Linked DNA regions of Homo sapiens. The protein of the gene in region 4 purifies or fractionates together with the protein of the main gene of each other region. This does not show direct contact. Each region holds a gene or a part of one and is shown on either strand. Other genes may lie near its edges.

Region 1 (7,023 bases), on a different chromosome or scaffold from region 4:
TCATAAAGATTAGAGAAGAAATTTTAAAAATAGAAACAAAAAATACAAAAAGTCAATGGAACAAAGAGCTGGATTTTTTAGAAAAAAATCAAAACTGACAAGCTTTAACTAGACTAAGGAAAAGAAAAACAAAACAAAATGATAGATGAAAAAGGAGACATTACAATGGATAACACAGAAATATGAAGGATTGTAAGAGATTACTAAAAACACCTATATAAAAACAAGTTGGAAAATCTAGGAGAAGTGATAAATTTCTGGACACATAACAAATTCCCAAGATAGAATGATAAACAAAAAACCGGAACAAGATCCATAATGAGTAATGTAATTAAAGCAGTAATAAAAAGTCTTCCATCAAACAAAAACACAAGAATCATGGCTTTATTGCTGAATTCTACCAAACGTTTTTTAAAGAGTTAATACGAATTTTACTCAAAATATTCCCCAAAAAATGAAGAGAAAGGAAGTCTTCGAAACTTGTTCTATGAGGACAGCATGACCCTGGTACATGGTACAAAAACCAGACCAGGAAACAACACAAAAAGAAAACCACAGGCATTTTAAATATCCCTGATGAACACAGATGCAAAAAAATTTTCAGCAAAATACTTGAAAATTGCACTTGACAACACAATAAAAAGATGATCTGCCATGATCAAGTGGGATTCATCCCAGGAATATGAGGATGATTCAATAAAACACAAATAAATGTGCGACATCACATTCAGCGAATCAAGAACAAAAACCATATAATCATTTCAGTAGATGCTGAAAAAAATAAAAATCAACATTCCTTCATGACAAAAACTGGACAACATGAGTACAGAAGGAACATATCTCAGCGCAATAAAGGCCATATATGACAAACCCACAGCTAACATCATAATCAATGGGGAAATGTTTAAACTCTTCCTCTAAGGCCTGGAACAAGTGTGGCTACTTTTACGCCACTTTTATTCATCATAGTACTGGAAGTCCTAAGTGGGGCAATTAGACAAGAGAATGCAATAAAAGGCATCCAAATTGGAAAAAAGGAAGTCAAACTGTTTGTTTGCAGGTGACATGATCATATATATACACAGAGAAAGAGAGAACCCTAAAGATTCCACAAAATCACCTACTAGAAATAATTTAGTCAAGTTGCAAGATACAATATCAACATATAAAAATCAGTAGCACGCCCATGCACCAATAGTGAAATACCTAAGAAAGAAATCAAGAAAGCTATTTCATTACCAAAAAAATTATATCTAGGGATAAACTTAACCAAAAAGACAAAAGATCCCACAATGGAAACTCTAAAACACAGATGAAAGCTATTAAAGCAGACACAAGTAAATGGAAAGATATCCCATGTCCATGCACTAGAAGAATATTGTTAAAATGTCTATATCACCCAATGTGATCTAGAGAGTCAATGCAATCCATGTTAAATTACAAAAGACATTCTTCATAGAAATAGAAAAAAAAAATCCTAAAATTCACATGGAAACGCAAAATACCTCAGATAGACAAAAGAATCTGGAATAAAAAGAAAAGCTGGAGGCATCACACCTGACTTCAAAACATACTACAAATCTGTAGTAAGCATGGTAATACCAAAACAGCATAATACTATCAAAAAAAGGGGCGGGGGAGAAACAGAAACGAAGGAATGACAGACATAGACAAGTGAAACAGAATAGAGAAATCAGAAATAAATTCACCCATTTATGGCGTACTCATTTTTAACAAAGGCACCAAGAACACACATTCGGGAAGGACAATCTCTTCAATAAACTGCTAGGATAACTCAACACCCACATGTACAGGAATACATCTAGGCCGTTATCTTACCATATACAAAAATCTACTCAAAATAAAGATTTAAATGTAGGACCTGAAACTATAAAACTACTAGAGAAGAAAACATAGGATAAATCCTTCATGAAACTGGTTAGGACAAGGAATTTTCAAATAGACATCAAAAGCACAAGCAACAAAAGCAAAGATGTAATTACATTAAACTTGTCAAAAGCACAAGCAACAAAAGCAAAGATGTAATTACATAAAACTTAAAAGCTTCTGCAAAGCACAGGAAGAAATCAGTAGAACGAAGAAACAACCCAGAGAATGGAAGAAAGTATTTGCAAACTATGCATCAGCCAAGGGGCTAATACACAAAATATATAAATAACTACTCAAAAGCAAAAATACAAATAATCTGATTAAAAAAAAATCTACCCCAAATCTTTGTCTCCCACCATTATTTTCCCACCTTCTTTTCCCGACCGCCTTTGGCCTCCTCCCCCTCGCCACCTGTTTTCTTCCTCCATCTACCCCAAAACTTTTTCCCCACCATTTTTCCCCACCGTCATTTCGCAAAGCCTTCTCTGCTCTCTCACTCACCACCCTTTTCCCCATCCACTTACCCACTTTCCCCACTGTTTTTCCCACCGTCTTTTCCCTTTCTCCCTGGCCACCTTCTTTTCCCCCATCCCACTCTCATCACCCTCTTTTGCTCCTTCATCTAAGCAAAAACATTTTCTCCCGTCTTTTCCCAAACCCTTCTCCTCACTCCTGCTGCTCACCACTTTTTCGCCCTTCATCTACCCGAAAACTGTTTTCCTCATCGTCTTTTCCCCCGCTCCTCCTTGCCACCCTCTTTCCCTTCTCTACCCAAAAACATTTCACCATAGTCTTTTCGCAAAGCCTTCTCCCCACTCCTGCTCACCTCCCCTTTTCCCCCTCCATCCACCCCCCAGAATATTCCCTACTGTCTTTTCACAGTCTTCCCCCCTTCCCACTCGTCCTCTTCTTTGCCCTATCCTGCTTGCCACTCTCTTTTTTGCCTTCCATCTACCCCAAACTATTTTCCCATTTTTTTCCCAACTCTCTTTCCCTGCTCCCTCTCGTCACCCTCTTTCCTCCTCCTCGTTACCCTCTTTCCCCCCACCATCTACCCAAACACTTTTTACCCACTGTCTTTTCTTTCTCCACCGTCTTTCTTTCCTGCCCACTATCTTTTTGCAAAACCTTGTCTTCCTCCCGCTGGCTACCCTTTTCCCTTCCCCCACCTGTTACCCTCTTTTCCCCCTCTATCTACCCAAAACCTTTTCTCCCCACTGTCTTTTCACAAAACCTTCTCTCCCTACTGCTCAACGCTGTTTCTCCCCCCCACCACCCTCTCTTTCCTCCTCCCTTGCCACCCTCTTTTCCTCCTCCATCTACCCATAAACATTTTACCCACCATCTTTCTGCAAAACCTTCCCTCCCTCCCGCTCCCCACCCCGTTTTTCTCCCTCCATCTACCCAAAAACTTTTTTTCCCACTATCTTTTCCCCACCGCCTTTTTGCAACGCGCTCTCCTGCTCACTATCCTCTTTTCCCTTTGGCACTAACCACCCTCTTTACCCCCTCCATCTATCCCAAAACTCTTTTCCTCCTCTTACCGCTTCCGCCGCACTGCCGTCTCGGTCGCGGTTACCACCAGTCGCAGCGAGGCGAGCCACGGTGTAGCGGCTCCAGCCTCCAGCGTACGGCTGGTGATTACCCATTCCTGGTCCTCTAAGCCGGGCACTGAGCAGCTCCACAGGAAAATACGGGAACGTGGAAGAGCCTGACTTCCCTTCAGCAGCAGTCATATACCGAGATTATATACAGGAGGATTCCTGACTGCATGTTCTGATTGGATGAGAAAAACCCTCCAGGGTTACTTGGATTGGACTTTATTATCATGTTCTGATTGGATGAGAGCCAGTCTTAAGACAACCAATCACAGCATGAAAATAAAGTCCAATCAGAGTAGGCCTAGAGGTTTTTCTCTCATCCAATCAGAACATGTAGTCTGGGAACCACATGTGCGTAACCTCAGTAGGTAAAGCATGCGGAGGTGGCGTCAGGTCATTTCAGGCTCTTAAGTGTGGGCGTTTGGTATCCGGCATGGCTGCTACCTGTTTCTGGCTGGAGCCTCGGACACTGGCTCACTGCAGTTGGTGGTGTCGACAGTGGTAGGAGGGCAACCAGTAGCGGGAGCTTCTCCTGCCAGGCAGGAAGACGAGTAGAAGGGAGCGGCATGCTGGAGGCTGGAGCCTGAGCCCCTGGGGCTCGCCTTGCTGTGTTTGGTGGTGACGTGGGACACTGCAGCTCGGCCAGAGTGGTAGAAATGTCCTGGTGTAGGTGAGTTATCCGGGGATGTACTGCCCGCCTGTGGGGGCAGGGGTTGGGTGTCCTATTGGGGCTCACTACCCGAGGCTGCACTGCCTGTGTCAGGGGGCTGGTTGGGGGCACTCTCCGAGGTTGCATTGCTGGCGGTGGAGGGGGGCGGTTTTGGCTGGCTGTCCGGGGCTACACTGCCCGTGGTGGCGGGGGTGATGGGGGGGAGGCAGGTTGTGTGCACTAACGTGTACTGCCGGTGGCGGGGGAGGGGTTAGGGGCACTATTTTCTGCTGCACTGCCCGGGGCAGGGAGTGGTTTTGGTGGTTATTTGGAGCTACAATGCTGGCAGCGGGGGGTGGTTTAGGAGTGTTGTCGGGTGCTGCACTGCCCTTACTCAGGGTGCGCTATCAGGAGCTGCGCTACCTGTGGTGGGGTGGGGGCGGCGATTTTGAGGCATTGTCTTGTGCAGCAACACCTGTGGCTGGGTCAGGTTGTGGGCACTATCGGGTGCTACACTGCCTGTGGAGGGGGTGGTTGGGGGGGGTATTGGGGTTACACTGCCTGCAACTGGCACAGGGTGTGGTGGGTGTGCTGTCCGGGGGCTACACTGCCGGCGGCAGGGGTCAGGTTAGGGTTGCTATGGGGGCTATACTGCCAGTGGTGTTGGTCGGCTGCAGAGGTGGTGGGGACAGCAACAGCCATGGTCTCCTTGCTCCTTCGGGTGACTCTTCTCTTTTCCAGACTCCAGAGTTCCTCCTGGTGCAATCTTGAGCAGGGCAGGGCCCCCACACCCACTGCGGTTCTCCGGCCTGCACCTCCCGCCCACACCCCATGCTCTGTGTTGGGGAGACCACCTGGGACTACCGGGTGGGGATTAGTGGGCATCGCGGGGGACTGTGGGAACAGGGCACTGTGGGTGGAGGTGTCAGGAATGGGAACCAGCAGTTGAGTGGGGAGGGCTGGCTGGGTCTGAGTTTCTCCTACTCCTGCTCCCCAAGGAGTGCAGCCCTGGTGGGCCCAGCAATTTCTGGCCAGTTGCACCTGGATGGGGGTGGTTTCAGCATAGGCACTCACACCCGCCCCAGTTCCTGGCCACCTTTTGCCAGAAAGAGAGGCTGGACTTCGGTGGGTGGGTCTGAGTGCCTTAGCTGAAGCTGGTCCCTGCCACCCAGTGGCCAGCATGACAAGGTGAGGCTCTAACGTTACCACTCCCTGCATCCCATTCTAGGCTTTTCTGGCTTTGCCCGTCTAGCTGCTCCAAGCCAGGCTGGAGGAGGAGGAGAAGGAATCACCTGTGGTACGCTGGAGCCTGCATGTGGCGTGACTCTGCAGCTCGCCTCGTGTGACTGATGGCAGCCACGGAGACTGCAGCTCGACAGGAGTGGTAGGAGGGTGCCCGCGGGGGCAAGGTGGTAGGAACCTTGTAGGGTGGGCTGCTGCATTGATGGCGACAGCAATTGTATTGGCATTGGTGCTAGTGGTGGTAGTGGCAGAAAGTCTGGGGACTGGGAAGGGGGAGTAGGAGCACTGCAGGGCCCAGTCCGACCTGGGGTGGGGACGAACCTGCTGGTGCTGTACCATGGGCCTCGGTGGCAGTGGTGGAGGTGCACTTAGGGAAAGGAGTCCTCCCCCTTCTCTTGCAATCTCTGGAGGGTGGCCTCCTTCTGAGCCAGGCATGAGTGGCAGCATTGTCTCATTCTTAACAAAATTTAGGGGGTGACTGTGTGTGTGTGTGTGTGGCTTTTTTTTTTTTTTTTTTTTTTTTTTTGAGACAGAGTCTCGCTCTTTTGCCCAGGCTGGAGTGCCGTGGTGTGATCTCGGCTCACTGCAAGCTCTGCTTCCTGGGTTCACACCATCCTCCTGCCTCAGCCTCCCTAGTAGCTGGGACTACAGGCGCCTGCCACCACGCCCAGCCAATTTTATTTTTGTATTTTTAGTAGAGATGGGGTTTCACAGTGTTAGCCAGGATGGTCTAGATCACCTGACCTCATGATCCACCCACCTTGGCCTCCCAAAGTGCTAGGATTATAGGCGTGAGCCACCACTCCCGGCCATTTTTTCCTTCTTTTTTGTTGTGATGGTCTTGGACTTTTTCAAATTTTGTGAATTGGGGAGGGGATAAAAGGTGTCATAATAGGCCTTCTAATTCCTGCACCTGTTCTTTTTGCTTATTCTAGTCTGTGTATTCTTCTCATCTTCTTGTTCCTCTTCATTTTCTTTTGCTGCTGCTTCTATTTCATGTTTCTATTCTTGTTTCTCCTCCTCTTTTTGTTTTCTTTATGCCAAGCAATGGCCTTAACAAACAACAAGCCAAAATTGTCACTGTGTTGTATTTTTAAAATAACTGGTCCTTTACTATGTTTTAGGGATGAGGAAAAAAATCAGTTGTATAATTAGTTACTTGAATAGCTATGCTTTCACGATTGTGTTAAACCACTTATGCCTAGTGTTCCATTATTGGAATGGTAAGCATGAGGGAGTTAATTACATCCTACTGCTCAAGGTCATTAGAAGGTTTGATTTTTCACTCGTGCAAAAATTCAAAAAATTGCAGCCTCTGGCATAAATGGGCTAATGCGTTGTAAGTAGTTATTCAGAGAATCAAAAAATGAAGCATCACATAAAAATATTGGTGGCAAACAGCCATTTCATCTCTCTCACATATTTGGAGCTATGCAGGAGTCACGGGGTAAGTTCTAATTTATGAGATTATTAAGTGAACTGTATTGCCTTCATTTTCTCTGCCACCATTTCCTTTGTTTTCTTTCTTTTTTTTTTTTTTTTTTTTTGAGATGGAGTTTTGCTCTTGTTGCCCAGGCTGGAGTGCAATGGGGCGATCTCGGCTCACTGCAACCTCCGCTTCCTGGGTTCAAGCAAGTCTCC
Region 2 (7,028 bases), on a different chromosome or scaffold from region 4:
GAAAGATGGGAGGTGGTAGTCAGGGAGTAGGATGTTTGGAATTGATAGTTTGGAGGGTTTGCAGTTACTGGTAATAGAGGCATATGAGTGACTGAGATAGGAAGGTGGATAATATTTTGGGAGAAGAAGAACTCAAAGAATGGAGTGAGAGGTCAGGGTATTGTGGGGATCACCTGTGTGGATATTGAAATCGCTAGGTATTAATATTGTTGGAAAGTGTGATGGTGAGCCAGAAGCTAAAATCTTTTGAGAAATGAAAACAAGTGATACAAAGATGAATAGATTACTATAAAAAAGAGAGTTGCGGGTGGTAGAGTCTAATGACTTTAGACTTAGAGCTGGGTATATTTGAGGAGGAGACAAGGAGAATGGTCTGTAATTAGCAATGAAGAGCAAGGACGATAGCTGTCTGGTGCCTGGTCCAGTGATAGGAAGAATCAGTTATCACTTTATATAGCTGCAGGGGAGAGAGAAATCAGGAGATCTAGAAGGTGAAGGGAATGTTCAGCAAAGTTGAGGATTTAGGAGATTTCATTGTTAATGAATGTTGAGCTCCGGAGGGCACAGTAGAAGGGTTTTAGGATTCGGGGAGGAGTGTTAGATGGGGACAGAATAGGGAATATGCATAACCATATGGAAATTGGAGTATGGGAAATAGGGGTGACTGAGGTGTCTGGGACTATGGTAAAGAAAGAAAGGGACTAATAAAGTTGATTAGTCATGGTTGTCTGAGGACACATAGTGCAGTGGTTGTGTTGGGGAATGCCGAGCAGGATGTCAAGGAGACTCTCCATTCCTGCAGGTGGAGGTTGGAGCTTGAGGGGAAGATCAGTCTTATTCAGTGCCTTTGGGGCTTTTTTTTTTTTTTTTTTTTTAACCACTGCTGATGGAGATTGAAGGAATAGGAATCTGCCTATCACCCTGTGTACCTGGCATCACTTGTTAACTACTAGGCTTTGTTTTAGGGAGGCCAGCTATATGAGGAGGGTTTTACTCTGGTGTGTTGAATCTTTGCATCTACACTAAAAGTGGCCAGTCTACTTTTTACCAGACAGTGCTTGATAAAAGTATAATCTGCTGCTGATACCTCTCAAATCTGTTAACTGCAGCCCAAATTTTTTTATAGATCTCCAGACCAATTGTATCTTACTGTTCACTGAAAAGTCCTCTTGGGTATCTCACAGATACTGTCTTAAACTGAAATGTCTGAAATCAAATGTAACATCTTTTTCTCATTATATCCATTGTTTATTTCGGTATAGGTAGTCACAAAAAGTGTACTGCCTAGTTGTCTAAGCAAATACTTGAGCATCATTCTGGAGTCTGTTCTCTTCCTCTTTTCCATATCCAGTTACCATTAAATCTTACAGATTTTTTTTCTGCATCACTTGGACTGTGCAGATAAATCTTACAGATTTTTATCTCCTAACTAGCCCTTGCATCTGCTTTTGTTATTTCCAGTGCCTCTCAGTTCAGATCATCTACAATCTGGCCCAGGTTATTACAGCAGCCTCCATTCTTGTTCTCCCACCCACCCCTTCTCCCCAAACACCCATTCTGGCCATTCTTGAGTTATATTCAGATCTTCACATATAGCAAACTGTTTTGGCCTATGCAGATGCTGCAGATTTAGTAGTGAGTTATAGTTGTGGATTTAGTATTCAGTGCATGCAACTTCTCTAATCAATGTCACTTCTTAAAAAAAGTCACAGAATATAGAGAGAATAATCCAAGTGGAAACTTTTGTTCATGAGGTTACTAATAAATAATGAGGTCACAAGGTCTTTGCTTTCCTCCAAAAAATATAATTTCCTTTTAAAGGACAATGTACTTTTTTTTTTTTTTTAAGGGAAAAGAATTTTTTTCCTATGCAAATACTTTAATTTTTGCTTAAATTATATCAGTTGCATTAATATAGTCATTGGGTTGTCCTTTGATTTGCTGCTGTTGTTACGTAACCAATGATTAATCTTTTTTTGTGATGATGGTGTGTAGTATGCTGATCACAGATTCCTTAAGCATCTTATGAAATCTGCTTATTGATGATTTGTTCTTTCGTGTTTTTTTTCCTCCTAGGTGAGAACTTACGTTTCTTTTTGTTTGTGTTTTATTGAAGGTACGGCTTGTAGATGCAGGCTTTGTTTGGACTGAGCCTCATTCTAAGAGACTTAAAGTTAAACTGACTATTCAGAAAGAGGTAAGCAGTACATAATTTTCTCAGCATGGTTAAAGTGCAGGTAGTGAAAATGAAGACCCAGTGATAAGTTATTTTATGGCTTGAACAGCTTAAAAGAAAAAGAGTACACTCAATTTTAGCTGTTTGTTTTCTTTTGAGCATCTGTACAAATAATTAGATCACTAGTAAGAGTAGTCATTGCTTCTGATTAGCAGACTTACTTTTCCAGAGTTATTTTTATTAGGAAAGGATTGAAGTAAAAACATGGTCTAAGGTACTGATCCTCAAACTTGGCTGATCATTGTAATGACTCATCATAACTGAAGCAAAAATTCTCTGTATGTGAGGCCGGGAATCTATAAGTAGGTTGAGTATCCCTTATCTGAAATGCTTGGGACAAGAAGTGTTTCAGATTTTGGATTTTTTGGATTTTGGAATTTTGCATTATACTTAACTGGTTGAACATCCCTAATTCAAATACAAAATGTTCCAGTGAACATTTTCTTTGAGTGTCATTTAGAAACTCAAGAAGTTTCAGATTTTGAAGCTGAAATTTCAGATTCTGGGTTTTTGGATTTGGAATGTTCAATCTGTATTTAAAAAGCTTCCCATGTGATTTCTGATCAGTTATGTTTGGGAATCATTAAATTAAGGAATTTTTTTTTTGAGAAGTTTTCCTTATTTTTTTCTTCTAAGGATGATTTTTCTATGTAAACATGTATAGGCTGGGCATGGTGGCTCACACCTGTGATCCCAGCACTTTGGGAGGCCAAGGTAGGCAGATCACTTGAGCCCTGGAGTTCGAGACCCCATCTCTACTAAAAATACAAAAGTTAGCTGGACGTGGTGGTGTGTGCTACTTGGGAGGCTGAGGTGGAGAATCACTTGAGCCCAGGAGGCAGAAGTTGCAGTGAACCAAGATCGTGCCACTGTACTCCAGGCTGGGCAACAGGCAGAGTGAGACCCTGTCTCAAAAAAAATTATATATATATATATATATGTAAAATATACACAGAATATTCTCACAACCACTTCAGCTAAAGGAAAATTTGAAATGCTAATCTAATAAATCTTAGGAATTAAATCTGTATACCGTTCTTGAAATAGTATAACTTGTTTTTATGACTTTAAATTTGAGGACATTTGATTGATGTCCTCAAAGCATTAATGGAAAAAGTTTTAAATTAAATATTAAAGGTTCTTCTTTAAAGAAAATATTTGTTATTAAACAAAACCAAAAGAATGAAGGAGTGTAATTGTTTTATCAGGTGATGAATGGTGCTATCCTTCAACAAGTGTTTGTGGTGGATTATGTTGTTCAGTCCCAAATGTGTGGAGATTGCCATAGAGTAGAAGCTAAGGATTTCTGGAAGGCTGTGATTCAAGTGAGGCAAAAGGTAATGAGAGAAGATGATGAGTGAGTCCTACATCTTATATTTCGTCTTTGTTAATTATAACTTTTCCTTCTTTCTAAATCCAGGGATAGTCTGGGTCCCTGAAGCATTCACCTTTGGAAATAGATCATTATTACATTTTAGATAATCTTTAAAGATTGTTATTGTTTGAAAAATCAGTATGCTCTATCTGTAGATAGTATGTGTGTCCTATACCTATAAATGGCTTTTTTGTGGGGCATTTATTGATCAAATAATTTATATTTTAGACTTTGCATAAAAAAACTTTCTACTATCTGGAACAGTTAATTCTGAAATATGGAATGCATCAGAATACACTTCGTATCAAAGAGATTCATGGTGAGTTAAAACTCAAAAGCATTTGAAATTATGTCAGATTTTTATTTCAACATACCTAAGTAATCTTATATTTACTGATAATATCTGGATTAGTACTGTCCAAAAGAACTTTCTGTTAGGAAAAAAAAAAAAAACAACTTAATTCTTTATCTGCACTGTCCAGTATGGTATAGTCACTAGCCACATTTGGCTGTTGAGTACTTGAAATGTGGCTAGAGCAACTGAGAAACTGAATTTTTAATTTTCTGCTAATGTCAAACATAATTATCTTTTTATGTTTCATACCTAAGTATGATATTTCTTGAGGTTTCTGTTTGATACATATGCATACATACTTCTGTCCAATCTTGCTCTCAGTTAAGTGAGTGACATTGAAAAGAGTTAGAAAGAAAGCTTGCCTTCTTTCTACCTAGCATTTAATTAACCTCTAGAAGTTTTTTAAGAACTTGCCCATTAAGCCATCCAATTTGATATCTCCTAAGGGACGTCTTTTCAGTTTCTTTTATGATATTCACCTCTCAGGTATTCTACCCCTTGAGTCAATTTTAATACCATTTTCCAAGAAAAACCATTTCATCTAGCTTTTTAGATTCTTGGTATAAAATTGAACAAATAAAATAAATCTCATCCGTAACTGTAGTTATGTCCTCTCTATTGTTCCTAATGTTTATCTTTTCTCTTTCTACTCACCTCACCTTAGACTAGCTACTTTTATCTATTATGTTAGTTTTTTCAAAAAACTATTTTTAGTTTTAAACAATCTTTTTATTAATTTTGTTTTTAACACTAATTCCCTCAACTCTATTTAGTTCTGTTTTGTTTTAATTAATTGAAAGCTTAGTTTATTTTTAATTTCTAATACATATATTTAAGATCATAAATTTTCTTCTGAGTACTATAATGGGTCTGTAGCTGGTACTTATAGCTACCTTTTTCCACTGCCCATTGCATATTTTATTTGCCCTCAGCAAGCACCTCAGCTGTTTCATTCTTTTGGGTACATACTTAGGTGTGGAATTACCAAGTCATATGGTAAATTTATGTTTATATATAAAAAACTACCAAACTGCTTCAAAGTGGCTGTACCATTTTACATTCCTGCCGCCAATATTTCTCTGTATCCTCCTCAACACTTGTTCTTATATTTTTGTTTATAGCCATTCTAGAGGGTGGTATGAAGTGGTATCTCATTGTGGTTTTAATTTCCATTTTGCTAATGACTAACGATGTTGAGCATATTCTGGATACAAGTCTCTTACTGCATATATGGTTTGCACATATTTTCTCCTAGTGTGTAGGAGAAAATTCACACTCTATATTCTTAATGGTGTCCTTTGAATTGCAAAAGTTTTAAATTTTGTTGAAGTCCAGTTTATCAAGTTTTTTCTTTTAATTGTGGTTTTGGGGTTATGCTTAAAAACTGTTTGTCTAATCAAGGTCACAAAGATTTTCTCCTATAGTTTCTTTCAAGTGTTTTATAGTTTTAGGTCTTATATATTTAGGTCTAACTCTTGAGTTAATTTTTGTGCAGAGTGTGAGATAAGTGTCTAAATTCATATTTTTCTATGTGGATATTCTTCATCCCAGTGAAAACTCTGTCCTTTCCTCAGTGAATGCCTTGGGTCTTCTGTCAAAGATCTATTGACTGTAAATGTAATGGTTTATTTCTAGAATCTGAAGTCTGCTCCCATTGATCTATATATCTATCCTTATATTAGTACCATGCTATCTTGCATACTTACTAAAGTTAGTGAGTTTTGACATTAAATGTGTAATGTTCATTTTCTTCAAAATTGTTTTGGCTATTCTGGGTAATTTTAGTATTGGCTGTTTTGGTAATTATATTTAGTTATTTGCAAGAATATCTTTAATATTTCTCAGCTAGGTAGGTTTGCTTTTGGCTATTCCTTTCTTGATTTCTAGTGCTACTGTTTTATGATGAGATAATGTTGTCTTTAGTAATTTCTACTGTTTAGGATTTATTGAAATTCTTTTTCTTTTTAAAATCTTAATACATGATTTTTAAATGAATGTTTTATGAATGTTTGATAAAATATGTATTCTTTCTTAGAACTGTGTTCTATAATCTCAGTTAACTCGACCTTGATAGTTGGTTATTCAAGTTCTGTGAATTGTTACTATTTTTTGTCAATATGATTATTTTGGTTTTGAGAGAGTCCTATTCTAGTCCTTCACAATGATTGTATGTGTTAATATTTGTTAATTTTTTCTTTTCTTTTTCTAGTACTTTTTGTTTTCTATCTCTCAGATAGTTTCCTGTTATCTTCTTGGTAGATTATTCCATTTATTACATAAAATAACTTTCTTTTTTTTTTTTTTTTTTTGACATGAAGTCTTGCTCTGTCACCCAGGCTGGAGTGCAGTGTTGCGATCTGGGCTCACTGCAACCTCCGCCAACTGGATTCAAGCGATTCTCCTGCCTCAGCCTCCCAAGTAGCTGAGATTTGGCACATGCCACCACGTCCGGCTAATTTTTTGTATTTCTAGTAGAGACGGGGTTTCACCAGAATGGTCTTGATCTCCTGACCTCATGATCCACCCAGCTCAGCCTCCCAAAGTGCTGGGATTACAGGCATGAGCCACCGCACCCGGCTGTTCATAAACTTTCTTTGTTCTTTGTTTTTCTGTCCCCCTTGGCCTTGAGTTTTATTTTTTCTAGAATTAGAATTACGAGTTTTATTTTCATTTGCTGATTTATTTTGTCTGTCTTTTTGCCAAAGAAGTCTTAAGTGATATCTCTAATCTGTTGTGACTACAATAGAGTTTTCTAATAATTTGATTTTGTTTAAAACAGATGTAATTTATAATATAGTCATGTTAGTAGAGGAGAATCCTATTTTGCATAATTATTTTCATAGGGCTTTTTTTTTTTTTTTAAGATGGTCTGGATTTTTATTATTCCTCAAAACAACATGCTCAGAAGATGGTCGAATTTCTTCAGTGTACAGTTCCCTGTAGGTATGTTCTGAACCTTGAATGTGACTAAATCTAAGGACTTGGGAATGGATGCGGATCACATATATTCTTCAGGCTCAGACAACTTCTCTTTATTTAAAATCGTAGTAGAAATACTTACA
Region 3 (7,028 bases), on a different chromosome or scaffold from region 4:
AGGCTGGTCTTGAACTCCTGAGCTCAAGCTGTCTGCTTGGCTTGGCCTCCCAAAGTGCTGAGATTATAGGTGTGAGCCACCACTCCCACCCCAGTATCTGTCTTTTAATTGCTGTTTAGACCAGGGACCAACAGACTTTTTAAATAAAGGACCAAATGGTACATGGTTACAGGTCATGCTTGTATGTCATGCAGACATTCAACTATGCTGTAACATGAAAGCTGCTGTACAGTATGCAAATGAACCAGTATGTCTGTATTCCAAGAACACTTTATAAAAATAGGCATGGGCCAGATATGGCTCCAGGACTCTAGTTTCCTAACCTTGGCTTAGTGTAATATGATCACTGCTGTCATTGAATTAAAATCTGTTATCCTTCTGGTTGTTTTGTATTCTATCTGTTCTTTGTTTTTCCATCTTTTTCTGCCTTCCTTTGAATTAATATGTTTTGTGATTCCACTTTATTTCCACTATTGGTTTATTATTTGTACCTCTTAAGTTTTACTTGTTACCTTAGGTTTACAATCTGCATCTTTAATTAACATGTCTGCATTCAAATAATATTATATTACTTCACATGTAGTTTAAGAGCCTTAGAACAGTGTACTCCCAATTCTTGCCTTCCATTCTTTGTGCTGTTATCATATAATTTTATGTTATTTTCTCTTTAAGCCCCACTAATGTTTATACTTTAAATGATTCTGTAACCACCCTCACTGTTAAGATTTTTCTAGGTTTGTGACAGTAAGTTACAAGATTCATAAATTTGCACTGTTTTACAGGTGGAGAATTAGGAATATAGAGACAATAAGAAAAAAGCGTTAGCCTGACAAAGTCAGAGTGCTAGAAGAGAGCTTTCAATAGCTACAGATAACATTTCCTCTCATTCTTACCACTCAGTGTTTTTCTTTAGTCATTACCTTAATTATAACTCTTACTTTATAAGAAAAAAAACTAAAAAGAAAAAAACACTTTTATTTTAAAATTTACATTTTTCTTCATGCACTATATAATAAACACGGGAGTCAAATATTCTTTTTTTTTTCTGTCTGACAGACTGAAGATTGTCATCCAGTTTTTACATTCTTGATTCTGGGGTGTGTATTTCAGCTTTGAGTGTTTCAAGCAACAGATTTGTTGATAATTTATGATTCTTTATAATTTCTAGGTGCATACATAAAATCAGTCATGTTTTAGTATGCATTTCAAAGACATAAAGCTTTATTTTTTTCTTAAGAAATACGGAGTGTAATATGTTTACTATAATTAGCTGATTTTCTTTCAAGAAAGTTTGTGGGGCTTTTTTTTTTTTTATAGTATTTGTGTGGAAGTAATCGAAAAGACAACATATTTATTGATCCTGGATACCAAACATTTGAGCAAGAATTGAATAAAATACTGCGAAGCTGGCAACCAAGCATACTTCCAGATGGTAATGCTATTTTCACTAAAGGTGTTGCTCTCTTGATATTAGGATTGTTATTTTTACAGAGTATGTTTGAAAATATTATAATTAAGTCACTTAAATTAGATAACATTTTCTGAACACTTACTCGAGCTCATCTGCCTTTCATCTCTTGTTGAATTAGAAACAAATGTGGTCAATAACTAGTGTTTATGAAGAACTTTGTAAGAAATGTAATCTACTTTCTCTGGAGTACGAGACTGGATGTTCATGTCTTAAGCCTTCCAGTGGAGCTTCTGATGTAAATTTCTCTTAAACCACTGTTTTCAGTCCGTGAAGAAAATGTGTATGTATGTGGAGTCATCAATTTTTTTCAGGAATTTAAATTCCTGAATTTTAATTTTAAAAGGATTTACACTGTTTTCTGACCACTGTTTGCTTGTCCTACTGAAGAACAGAAGCAAACATCCAGTCCCTTATTCCATAGATAATAGTTCCATAGTAGCCTCTGTATTGTTAAAGAGCTGCATAGGTAATTCTAGAATTATTCTAGTTGATCTAATATGAAAGGAGAATTGGTATAGATTTGTCCTTAAATTAACTGTGTCTGCTTCTAGATGGTTAAATGAAAACTTTTATTTATTATAATTCTTTTAAAATAGTTCTCTCTATTTAAGGGTCAATATTCTCTCGAGTTGAAGAAGACTATCTCTGGAGGATAAAACAACTAGGATCACACTCTCCAGTAGCTCTTCTGAATACACTGTTCTACTTTAACACTAAGTATTTTGGCCTGAAAACAGTGGAACAACACTTAAGACTTTCCTTTGGCACTGTGTTTAGGCATTGGAAAAAAAATCCTTTAACGATGGAAAACAAAGCGTGTCTTCGATACCAAGTGTCTTCCTTGTGTGGAACAGATAATGAAGGTAGTGTAACAGATTTCTATTTTTATTTTTATTTTTAAATTTTTTTTGAGACAGAGTTTCACTCTTGTTGCCCAGGCTGGAGTGCAGTGGTGCAGTCTCGGCTCACCGCAACCTCTACCTCCTGGGTTCAAGCAATTCTCCTCCCTCAGCCTCCTGAGTGGCTGGGATTACAGGCAGGCGCCACCATGCCTGGCTAACTTTGTATTTTTAGTAGAGACAGGGTTTCTCCATGTTGGTGAGGCTGGTCTCGAACTCCCGACCTCAGGTGATCTGCCCACCTCAGCCTCCCAAAGTGCTGGGATTACAGGCGTGAGCCACCACGCATGGCCCAGATTTCTATTTTGGGATTGTCTATGGTAGGGATATCCAAACCTTGCCTTACTAAAGACCACCTGGGTCACTTGTTAAGAACCTAAGGACTGTCAGTTTTATAAAATAAGACAACCTATGTCTTAAGATGTCTCAGTTCCTTTTGTTTGAAAAATTGTACATTACCAGAAGCCATAACTTAAAACTCCAAGGGGCACCTGGTCCTATTCTTTGGTATAACAGACACTAGGAGTGATGTTTATATCTTTCTTCAAGATTAGTTTAGGAGGTTTATTTCACTTTTATTTTTTAAGATAAAATTACTACTGGAAAAAGAAAACATGAAGATGATGAGCCAGTATTTGAACAAATTGAAAACACAGCCAATCCTTCCAGATGTCCTGTGAAAATGTTTGAATGCTACTTGTCTAAAAGGTGAGTGTTAATGATACTTAACTTTTAAAAATGTTGGTAGAAGTTGGCTGGTTTAAATTTAACATTACCAAGAAGTGACTTTTTTAGATGGATTCTTTCTCAGATTTCTTCTCTCTCAGTTATACCCAAGTTCATTCAGTTATAATCTTTTATTTTGAAATACCCAGTTTATACATCATACTTAGAGTTTAAGCATGTGTTAAGAAATCTCTCTCTACTAATGAAATTTCTACTGCTGTCATTTTCTTTTGGAGATGGGGTCTTGCTCTCTCACCGAGGCTGGAGTACAGTGGCACGTGATCATAGCTCATTGCAACCTCAAACTCCTGGGCTTAAGCCATCCTCCCACCCTCTGCCTCCTGAGTTGCTGGGACTGCAGGCATGTGCCTCCATAGCTGGCTAATTTTTGTATTTTTTGTAGAGACAGGATCTCACTGTGTTGCCCAGGCTGGTCTTGAACTCCTGACCTCAAGCCATCCTCGTGCCTCAGCCTCCCAAAGTGCTGGAATTACAGGCATGAGCCATTGCGCCTGTCATTGTCTTTTAAATTACAGCAATTCCAATGACAGCAAAGCAAGGGACACAAACTTTTTCTTAAACGGTCAGATGGTAAATATTTTAGGCTTTTGGGCCTATGGAATCACTATTGTAACTAATCGGTTCTCTTGTGACTAGAAAGCAGCCATATACTATATATAAATTCATGGCATGTGGCTGTGTTATAATAAAACTTCACATAAGCAGGTGGCTGGCTGTAGTTTGCCAATGCCCGGTGTAAAGGTATGCTCAAAGGTAGTATAGATAGGTGGAAATGTAAGTGAAGTATTTACATTTAAGAGAAAACAGTCAAGCAGGTATGAAAAATGGAATCATGTTCTGGAATTTTTTTTCCCCTCAATCTCAGACCAACAGGCATTTTAAAAAGTTTAAGCCAATAAAACGTTTAGAGACCATAGATTATTTTATGCTTGCCTGTTGTTTTAAGTAAGCACTCTCTAATTTTCAGAAGGTCAGCATGAATTCAAAATGTACTTCCCTGTTTAAACAAATTTATAAATCACAGGTCCCCAGGATGGCCCTCAAGGACTTGTAAAAACAATAGTATCATGTATAGGATGATATTAGTACAAGTTGAATGCGCCTTATCCAAAATGCTTCTGACCAGAAGTGTTTTAGATTTCAGATTTTTTCGGATTTTGGAATATTTGCATATACATTATAAGATGTCTTAGGGCTGGGACCCAACTCTAAACATGAAATTCATTTATATTTCATATACACCTTATACATGTAGCCTGAAGATAATTTTATTTATGCATAGCCTGAAGGTGATTTTATTTTCCCCTTGGGGTTGCTGAATAACCTGTGTGTTATGTGCCTGTGTTTTGGGCGCGAACTCCTCACATGAGGTCAGGTGTGGAACTTTCCACTTTTGGTGTCATTTTGGCAAAGAGTTTCAGATTTTGGATTTTTGAATTAGGGATGCTCAGCCTGTATTTCTCACCATGGTTTAGGGTGGTCCTATTTGGCTGCAGTAGTGTCAGGGTCTTCAGTTGGTAGTAACTATTTGTTAGTAGGAAATTCCTATCTCACTATTACCTTGTTGGTATTTTAAAAATTGAGTTTCTATTATGTAGTGCTGTAAGAATTTTTTAATTTTATGTGCTGCCATACATATTTCATCAATTCTAAGACATTTTCACATTTCACTATTTCTGAAACTGGGATGCACAGTTTAAATTGTTGCATCTTGAAATCATAATTGGCAGTGTTTCACTTGCTTAATGGTAGCATTAAAATAATGAGTGGTGTGTCTATTGATAGTGTCTTGGATTTAGTGAAGTAGAATTAAAATTGTGGGAAATAATCTCTATCTCAGAAAATAACTTTGAGAATATTTTAATGACAGAATAATGGAGACAGTGGGGCATAGGGGGTCTGGTCATATAACGTGATTAATGGGGTCTGAATTATTCTTGAAAAAAGAAAAAGTTGTGGAAATTTTGTGAAATTGACTTTTTCTCTTTTTCCTCCCGCCTCCAAAGTCCACAGAATCTTAATCAGAGGATGGATGTTTTTTATTTGCAACCAGAATGCTCTAGTTCTACAGATAGCCCTGTCTGGTATACGTCTACTTCACTGGACCGAAACACCTTGGAAAATATGCTTGTACGGGTTCTTCTAGTAAAAGATATTTATGATAAAGACAATTATGAACTGGATGAAGACACAGACTAAAAAGGAACGTTGCAGAAGCAATCGGGATAAAACAGCATTAGATAGTCATGCTGCTAGATCTTTATTATGGAAAACATTTCAAGTTTACTCCTTCTGTTTTGAGTTTTGTAGCAGTGTACCCACGCTGGGTATTACCATGTAAATAATCTGTGAGTGAAAGTTGCCATTATTCTATGTAGTGGTTTTAGGATACTTAACAAATACATTCAAATTCTTTTTTTATTATTATTTATTTGATTAGGTATGTTTGTAACTTTTTACATTACAGAATATGAATGAGAATGTGCCATGTATAATTTTTTTCTTGTAGTAAGAAACATCCATATTGCACAACTCTACTGTTGCAAAGCTTCCTTGGAAGGGGGCTCTTTTACTGGGTTCTTAACCAGATGGTTGTGTATGGGTAGCACTACTAAAAGTTTAGAACTTGCAGTGTCTTTCGGAATTTTTAAAATAAACTGTAAACTAATAGGCTGGGGTTTTTGTTTTGTTTTGGGGTTTTGTTTTGTTTGGTTTTACATTTTAGTTACTGAAGCCTTACAAGGTTATGTAGAGAGATACCATCTTCTGTACCAAAAATAGACAAGAGAATGCTGTCAATATTGGTGTACTGTAATGTGAATCTATGCTGGTGAAAACAATTTTTTGTTCCCCTTATTAAAACCTTAGTGTCCTTTTCTCATTTGTGGCTTTCTGCATCACCCAATCAATAAAAAACAAATATATATATGTATATATATGTATGTATGTGTGTGTGTATATATATATATATATATATATATATAAATGATTGTAAGTTGAAAACAAGATCATCAAGACATTTCCTTTGTAAAAATGTCTGGTGAAAGTATAAAATTCTGTTTTCTTCTATGCCAGCCATAAGTATCTGAAATCCTCTTCATTTATAGAGGTTTGATTTTTATTTCTTTTTTTCCCTCTTAAGGATACAGATCATGCTGCAATGTTAGCTGTGTAGTACTCTAAAACTTAGCAATTTTATCAGAATTCTTGTGCCTGTTTACATTGGATAAAATTGTTTTTAGAAATTCCACTCCTGAAATAGTTACAGAAAGTCAAGCTATGTTAAATAAGATAGGATCACATTTTATAATGAAGATTACCAGTGTAGTAATTCTGATATTGCAAATGATTGAGGAACAAACAAAGAAACTAATAGAGAAAGTCAGTCTCAGAGGAAATCCCATTTAATGTTAGATTGTTTGGCTTTTGAAATTACTTCTTATAGAAGATTGCATTAAAAAAAAAAACAACTTTGTGCTTCTGCATAGCAATTTATCCATTCAGACCTTTTCTTTTAGAATAAGGAAACTTAAAATCTACTTTCTAAAGACTGAACAAAGTGCTAGCTGCAAATTATCTTGAAATCATTTGGCTCTTTTCTAGCATGTGTGTAATCATGTTTTCTTCTGATTCCTGAATGACCATGGTAGCATTAGTGTTTAGAAATTGTTCAGGGGAAAATTGAGCTATTTTCCATAGTGGCTAGCAATTGCTACACATCCTTAGATACTCCTCTCTCCCATAGGATAAATGTTACAGCACACAAAAGAAATTTTCTCAATTCTGATTTGGAAAATTTCACAGGTGTCATTATTGTATATCTAAGCAATAATTATCTGAATGTTTTGGCATAAAAAATTATAATGTTCTAACTTGTTTTATAAGTTGAATGACTTTTCAGTCCCTTGATT
Region 4 (7,028 bases):
CTCCTGGCCTCAAGTGATCCTCCCACCTCAGCTGCCTAAAGTGCTAGGATTGTAGACTTGAGTCACTGTGCCAGCTAGATTTTAAATATCTATCTTACTTATCTTAAAATTATTTGGTAATTGTCTCGTGAAGTATGAATCTGTTCCCTCTCAGATTTCCAAATTGTTAGCTAACTATCTCAATATTGTTTATTAAGTAATTTAAAAAATCTTATTGGTTTTGTCCCCATTATCATGTATTCAATTCCTTTATAAAATGTGCTATACTTTTGTCCTTTCCACTCTGTTTTTGTTTTTCCTTTTATGCTCATATTGATTATAAATTAATCATTTCTATTTTAATAATTCATGGGCTGATCTTCATTTTTATTTTTAATTCATAGGCTGGTCTGATTTCTTTTTTATTTTTAAAAATTACTGTTTAGTAGTTTTTTATTCATATAGTACACAAATATTCTGAGCTACGTTATAAAAATTAAAGGATGAATAGAACTTGTCCTTTGTTTTCAAGGAGTACATAGTCTTAGAGAGTATGAGCAATTATTATTCAGGAATTCAAAGAAGACTTTTGAAAGCTTAAGTTGGAAGGAAGGAATAAGCCTAATAAAGGAAAGCTTAAGTTGAGTTTTGATTTATAGGCACAACTTCACCAGGGCAATGACTAGATCAGCAAAAATGAATATATGCAATAAAAATTGTGGACAGGTACACACACAGGGATGGCTGGAGCATAGGGTGAGGACATGAGGAGTAGCTGAGTATGAGGCTGGAGAGACAAACTGGAGCACCACTCTTTTCTAATTCCAGCTTAATTTTGTAATAATGTAATAAAATTCAATACCAACCCCATTAAACTCTTGATCAGGGTAATATTAAACATATTCAGTATACCATAACAATTATTGAATTGAATCTAATTCTTAAATAATAATGTCATTTGTCACAGAATGGGAGAGGTAAAAATAATAACTGTCAATAAAATTAGGACTATAGTAAATTCAAGCTGTGTGTTCCTTTTCAAAGTGAAAACACAGAAAGGGAAAACTACTCCCTTCAAGACTAATCAGTTGGCTTTAAGACAGGAAACACAAAATCAATCATCTTGACTTTATTGAAGCAGTGTGTAATTCTCTGCTAGTATGTAGTCCACAGAGACAGGGATCAGTTCCATCAGCCAGCAGGGCCCTGTGAAATGGGAGCCATTCTGTACAGGAATAAGGAGGAATGGAAGGAAGCAAGGAAAGCAATAGAGGTATCCTAACTGCTCTAGAAGGTTGATGGTGAAATGACAGAATGAGAATGTAGCACTGGGAACGGTATGAGCATATTAAGAAGAGTTTTTTAGTTCTAACCTGCTTGTTGTAATCATTTCACAATGTATGTGCATATCAAAACACCACATTACATACCTTAAATATACACGATTTTTATTTGTAAAATATACCTTAGTAGCGTTGAAGGGGAAAGTTCTAACCGTATTTAGAAGACAGAGGAAATAATTCAGTTGAGATGGAGAGGTTGATTTTTTTTTTGAAGAGGAGAGATCCACTTTGGAACATGAGTTCTTTAGGATATGTGAAACAGCTTGTCTCAAGATACAGAGGGGAAGATGGAGCACTTCTTAGAATGGCAGCAAGGATGTGATTAGAAGATGTAAAGAAAAAGGTGGTGAGAGATGGATGCAGAAAGCCAGACAGCTTACACTGATGCTTTGATCTTCTAAATAAGTATGTCCCACCTGTGTCAGATTACCCAGGAGTACTAGGTAAAAATTCAGCCCCTGGATCACTCTCATCAGAACCCAGGAAGCTGTGATATTAGTGAACTCTCTGGGTTATTCTAACTAAAGTGTGAGAACCAATGGCTCAAATGGAGTAGCAGGTTATCTACACAGTGTGTCTATATGATTGGGAAAGCATTAGTGCCACCCATATTAGAAGATATGGGTGGGCGATGGAAGAAAGGAATTGCTAAGCAGAGCCCATTTGGAAGTTGGGAAGCAGGAATTTGTATTGGAGAGGCTGGCCCAGCTCCAGATATGGTTGAATGTGCTTCCATGGCTTCTTCTAAGTTAAAGTGAATCTACCTAAAGACCCTGTTATTACTTCTGTATCAGGACCCAGGGAAAAATTGATAAAGCAGGCTACTGGATCAAGAAAGCAGGCTACTGGATCAAGGACATGAAGACAACTTGAGAGATTTCCCTTCCTTCTGGCCTTGAGAAACATACCTTTCTGGGCAGGCAGAGTCAATAATGCTGATTGCTACATACAATCCTGTGGATTTGTGTATTCAGAACTTTAATTTCACATAATTATGATGAGCCTGCCAACATGTCAGGCCAGACTTTCCTCTGCTAGTTGTGGCTCAGTTTATTCTTTGATGCTGCTGCTCCACCTGCATATAACCCAAGATGGGCAGCTCCCATGGTGAAAGGAATTAAAAGTTGCAAGGCCCTAATCTAGGTCATTGCTTTTCTCTCTCTCTACCCTTCTCTCTCCCTCTCTTTCTCTCTCTCTCTTTTTTTTAACTTGAGTGTATTAGCAGCCTCTTACCTGGTCTCCAGGCTACCAGCCTCTTCCTTCCAAGGTAATCTTCTATTCTATTAGAGTACCTTTTTTTTACACAGACTGACAGTTGCCATAAGTGCTGTAAGCAGTCACTGCTGTGAAGATTTCCTGTCACCACAGAGTGATGTTCTAACAAACAAAACAGATATAAGACGTTTTTCGAAGAATGCCTTGTCTTCAGCCACTGCTGCCGCCATTAGCACCTCCTACATTCTAGGGACAGGGAATCCTTGTCATTGCCTCAGTATATTGCGTACTCTTGCCTGTAACCAAAGTATCCCTTCGAGTTTAGTTGCTGTTCTTTCTGTTGTTTCCCTATAAGAAGTGTATTTAAATGTTATTCCCACTCTGTAGCTTTCTTGGACCACACTCCCTCTTTCCAGGCAGAATTATTTTTTTCATCTGTATTCCATAGTACTTTATACAAGTATCAACATTGTATTTAGAACATTCTATTGTACTTATTTGTATCTTTGTTTCTACAACTGCACTAGAATTTCATGTAATCCAAACTGAAAGAACATAGGAAAGTAGAGTTCTTTGGAGCAAGCAATATGGGCAACTCCCTGCATCATTTTGTAATAGTAACAAGCTTTCCTTTTTCCATGTAATATTATAGTTGTAGCATTGATGAATCTGAATATTTATAGAATCATAGAATTTCAGTGGGGAGAGGTATCTTAGAAGTGATTCCTTTGATTTGCAGATGAAGAAACCAGTCTTGTGGTTATGTTAGACCACCTAAGTACCTTTCATCAAAATCCCAGCCAACAACCTTCAGGAATTTATGAGAATTAAACCGTTTTCCATTTCAGGCAAAAACGTTCTGGGAGAGAACAAATGTATAATGCATTTTAGTTTAGAGGGAGCCCCATTAACAAATGTTAACTGCGTTTTAAGAAGTTGGGGTCAGGGAAAAAGTCAGGCTATTTGATGAGAGATAATTGATAAGTTCAAGGAGGATTTTAAATACAAATAAAGTGTTTTTCATGTGTTTCATTGAGATGATTTGAGGTATCAGGGCCACCAGAAGACAACAGAGTGGGTTTTGGTGAGTTTCTTTTTCTCTAGGTTTAATTGAACAGTTTTTTTTTTCTTCAATAGGTTTCAGAACCTTCTGTGGTCCAGAAAGACATTTGTGGACAACATGAAAATTTATAACCACAGTTACATCTACATGCCTGCCTTTTCTATGAAGACAGGAACAGAGCCATCTTTGAGGGTTTATTATACACTGTCAGATGTTGGTGCCAATCAAACAGTGCTGTTTGCCAACCCCAACTTTCTGCGTAGCATTGGAAAGTTCTGGAAAAGTAGAGGAATCCATGCCAAGCGCCTGTCCACAGGACTTTTTCTGGTGAGCGCAGCTCTGGGTCTCTGTGAAGAGGTGGCCATCTATGGCTTCTGGCCCTTCTCTGTGAATATGCATGAGCAGCCCATCAGCCACCACTACTATGACAACGTCTTACCCTTTTCTGGCTTCCATGCCATGCCCGAGGAATTTCTCCAACTCTGGTATCTTCATAAAATCGGTGCACTGAGAATGCAGCTGGACCCATGTGAAGATACCTCACTCCAGCCCACTTCCTAGGAACAATGGAAGAAGAAAGGACTGAACCAGGGTATTTTTGTTAGGTTTTCTATGTGACTCCAAGAGGGAATGGTCAAGTTGTTTCATGAGTTTGCATGGGCCCTTGGAAAAACAGGAAAGGAGCAATGAAGATCCAAGCAAAACTTTACTTTCAGCGTTGGCTTGGAGGACAAATAAGAAATGAAACATCCTATGAAATACTTTATAGCACATGGCAGATTTGCAACTAGTAAAATGCTGGTGAAATGCTGTTGGTAAAGCACATGGTTCAAATCTAGAAGATGCAGTTCAAAAACAAGACAGACTCGAGTTGTTAGGGCTGAGGAACCAATCAAGGTAGAACAAAGAAAATGTTGGGGTAAAAGTGTTGCTGATTGTCAACACAAACTGGCTTAATAATATTAATAAGAACCTGTCTTATTAAGACTGGCTTTAGAACCGTAGGTTTTTTTAAAAAATTATTATTTATTTTTGCCCTCTTTGGGGAAGTGGGTGGGTAGATTTAAAAAATCCCTTCCTGAGTAATAAAGATACAAAATGTTACTGCTGATAATTGTGATTTGTTGAGCCACGTCTATATTAACTATAGCTCCCCTCTATTTTTAAAATTTTACATAAGAATTGCTTCTTCCTCTTTTGTCAAGTCCACAGAGACAATGTGAAGCATTATTGAATTTAGACTGTGTTGCTTCATAGTCTGGATAACAGGAGCCACTTTCCTTCCTCAGAATTTAGGACATAAACCCAATTTTAGGTCTGCATTATGTAAGCCTGTTTGCATTGTCATTTTTATTTTAGTGCAAAAGACTACCAATATGAGTGAATTATTTGTTTGTAAATTGGCATAATTGTCTTCATAATTTAATGTTCAGAAATGCAGTAAAGCACGTTGATGAAAAGCTTAGTCTCTGTGGAAGACAGACCAGAAGACAAATCCCTTTTCTATCTACTGTGGCATATTCACTGCAAGGTAAAGGACATGTATGCATACATGCAAGAATGAATTGAGCGAAACTTTGAATATGTTTCCTCTTTTGAGCTATTGTTATTTAGTAGTTACCTAAAAAAGAATACATTTTTACTAGTATACCATTAAAAATGTAAAAGGCTTAACATGTATGCATACATGTAGACACACATACACACACACAAAGTTAAACAAAGCTCATTACTGTGCAACTATGAAAGCTGAACTCATATGACCTGGTATGGCAAAAATTTGTAACCAGTGTTGGAGAATCACAAATGTGTTATGCACTATCCATTACATGTTGATATAAGACAACCGAGCTCACTGGTTGCCGCACATAATACCCATAGCAGCACAAGATGCAAGTCTTACCCCCAAATGCTTACCCGGAATGAGCAGAATTGTCTTACTCATCCTGATTTTACCCAAAATCTCATGAATGGGCTTGCTGTTGAGCGTGGTCACACAAGGTATAGTTTGTACAAGTAAAGAAATGTGAATTAGTAGCTATTTATTTCCTTAGTAGCAGGTAGGACTACTTAGCTTGTTACAACAGCTTTGATACACAGTAAGAAAACTCTACTGACAGATTACAAGCAGCCAAATGTGTTTACATTTCAGAGAAGGGTAAGGGAAGCCTCTCGTTGTCTTCATACTTTGGAATGTCTTAAGCTAAAATGTGACACTAGAGTTCAATTTCTTTTTTATTTTAAATGTCACTAAATTGTAGGTAAACTGTACCAAAAAGTTCTAGTTTAATTTTAACAGTAAAAACTCAGCATACCATGTTACCACGTAAACAATAATGGCTGGTATTTTCTGTGGGTTAATTTAACATGACATAAACATAGGAAAGCCCTTGGCAAAATTCTACATCATTGAAGTAGACCATTTCTAAATGCAATTAAATAGTGAGGTTATTATAAAAATTAGAATTTAAAATATGACTTGTTGATAGTGCAGATTATAATGTTACTTAGAAAGTTAAGAATTCGAGAGTAATGATGCTATTGGAGAACTGGTTTGCTATACGGCAGCAAAAACATAATGAGAATGTACCATGAAGAAATTGTGTTAAATATTCACTTTGAGTGAAACTTTAAATATGTTTCCTCTTTTGAGCTACTGTTATTTAGCAGTTACCTAAAAAAGAATACATTTTTACTAGTCTACCATTAAAAATATAAAAGGCTTAACAAAAACGCATATAAAAGTTAATAAAATGTTACTCAGATTAGTACTTTAATTGTTAAAATGTAATTAATGAGCTCCATAGAGCCCATACATCACAGTTCCATTGAAAATATCATCTGGACTAGAATCTCTTAAACCCAGGAAGTGGAGGTTGCAGTGAGCCAAGATGGTGCCACTGCACTCCAGCCTGGGTGACAGGGCAAGACCCTGTCTCAAAAAAAAAAAAAAGAAAAGAAAAAGAAAGAAAATATTATGTGGAAATTTTTCATCTTTTTATGATGCCTGGGATAGATTTATGCAGTAGATTTATATATAATGTTTAGTTTACAAACTTGTGAAACTATTTCATGTGGGTTCTGAAAGGCAAAACAGAAATGGCCAGTGCTGGTGATGTTTGATTAGACCAGCTCTTCTCAGCTGGGGTGATTCATTATCCCTCTCTGGTGACATTTGGCAATGTCTGGAGACCAGAGACATTTTTTATTTTCATGACTCAAGGGTGCTAATAGCATGTACTTAGTAGAGGTTAGGGATCCTGCTAAAGATCTTACAATGCACAAGTCAGCCTCTCACAGCAAAATAATTATCCAGGCTGAGATGTCAGTAGTATCAAGGTTGACATCTCAGACCTGGATTAGACCTGGATTAGACCAAAATGAAATTTTGATTGTTCCACCTTGTCTTCACTTAAAGATAGATATAC

What was found.
Region 1: the proteins of ST8SIA1 (region 4) and POTEF purify together in Homo sapiens (affinity purification with mass spectrometry; 3 studies listed by BioGRID and IntAct, with this or other methods). This does not show direct contact.
Region 2: the proteins of ST8SIA1 (region 4) and NMD3 purify together in Homo sapiens (affinity purification with mass spectrometry; 3 studies listed by BioGRID and IntAct, with this or other methods). This does not show direct contact.
Region 3: the proteins of ST8SIA1 (region 4) and ZMYM2 purify together in Homo sapiens (affinity purification with mass spectrometry; 2 studies listed by BioGRID and IntAct, with this or other methods). This does not show direct contact.

What each region holds. Positions count from the first base shown.
Region 1 is NC_000002.12:130,126,210-130,133,232, reverse strand, and holds the start of POTEF (POTE ankyrin domain family member F), read left to right. Parts: upstream 1-4,010; 5' UTR 4,011-4,161; intron 4,162-5,368; 5' UTR 5,369-5,524; intron 5,525-7,023.
Region 2 is NC_000003.12:161,231,283-161,238,310, forward strand, and holds part of NMD3 (60S ribosomal export protein NMD3), read left to right. Parts: intron 1-2,116; coding exon 2,117-2,197; intron 2,198-3,444; coding exon 3,445-3,573; intron 3,574-3,839; coding exon 3,840-3,930; intron 3,931-6,830; coding exon 6,831-6,909; intron 6,910-7,028. UniProt on the Homo sapiens protein: Acts as an adapter for the XPO1/CRM1-mediated export of the 60S ribosomal subunit.
Region 3 is NC_000013.11:20,080,699-20,087,726, forward strand, and holds part of ZMYM2 (zinc finger MYM-type protein 2), read left to right. Parts: intron 1-1,317; coding exon 1,318-1,432; exon of another isoform or gene 1,433-1,438; intron 1,439-2,082; coding exon 2,083-2,334; intron 2,335-2,957; coding exon 2,958-3,078; intron 3,079-5,123; coding exon 5,124-5,316; 3' UTR 5,317-7,028. UniProt on the Homo sapiens protein: Involved in the negative regulation of transcription.
Region 4 is NC_000012.12:22,198,685-22,205,712, reverse strand, and holds part of ST8SIA1 (alpha-N-acetylneuraminide alpha-2,8-sialyltransferase), read left to right. Parts: intron 1-3,674; coding exon 3,675-4,161; 3' UTR 4,162-7,028. UniProt on the Homo sapiens protein: Catalyzes the addition of sialic acid in alpha 2,8-linkage to the sialic acid moiety of the ganglioside GM3 to form ganglioside GD3; gangliosides are a subfamily of complex glycosphingolipds that contain one or more residues of sialic acid.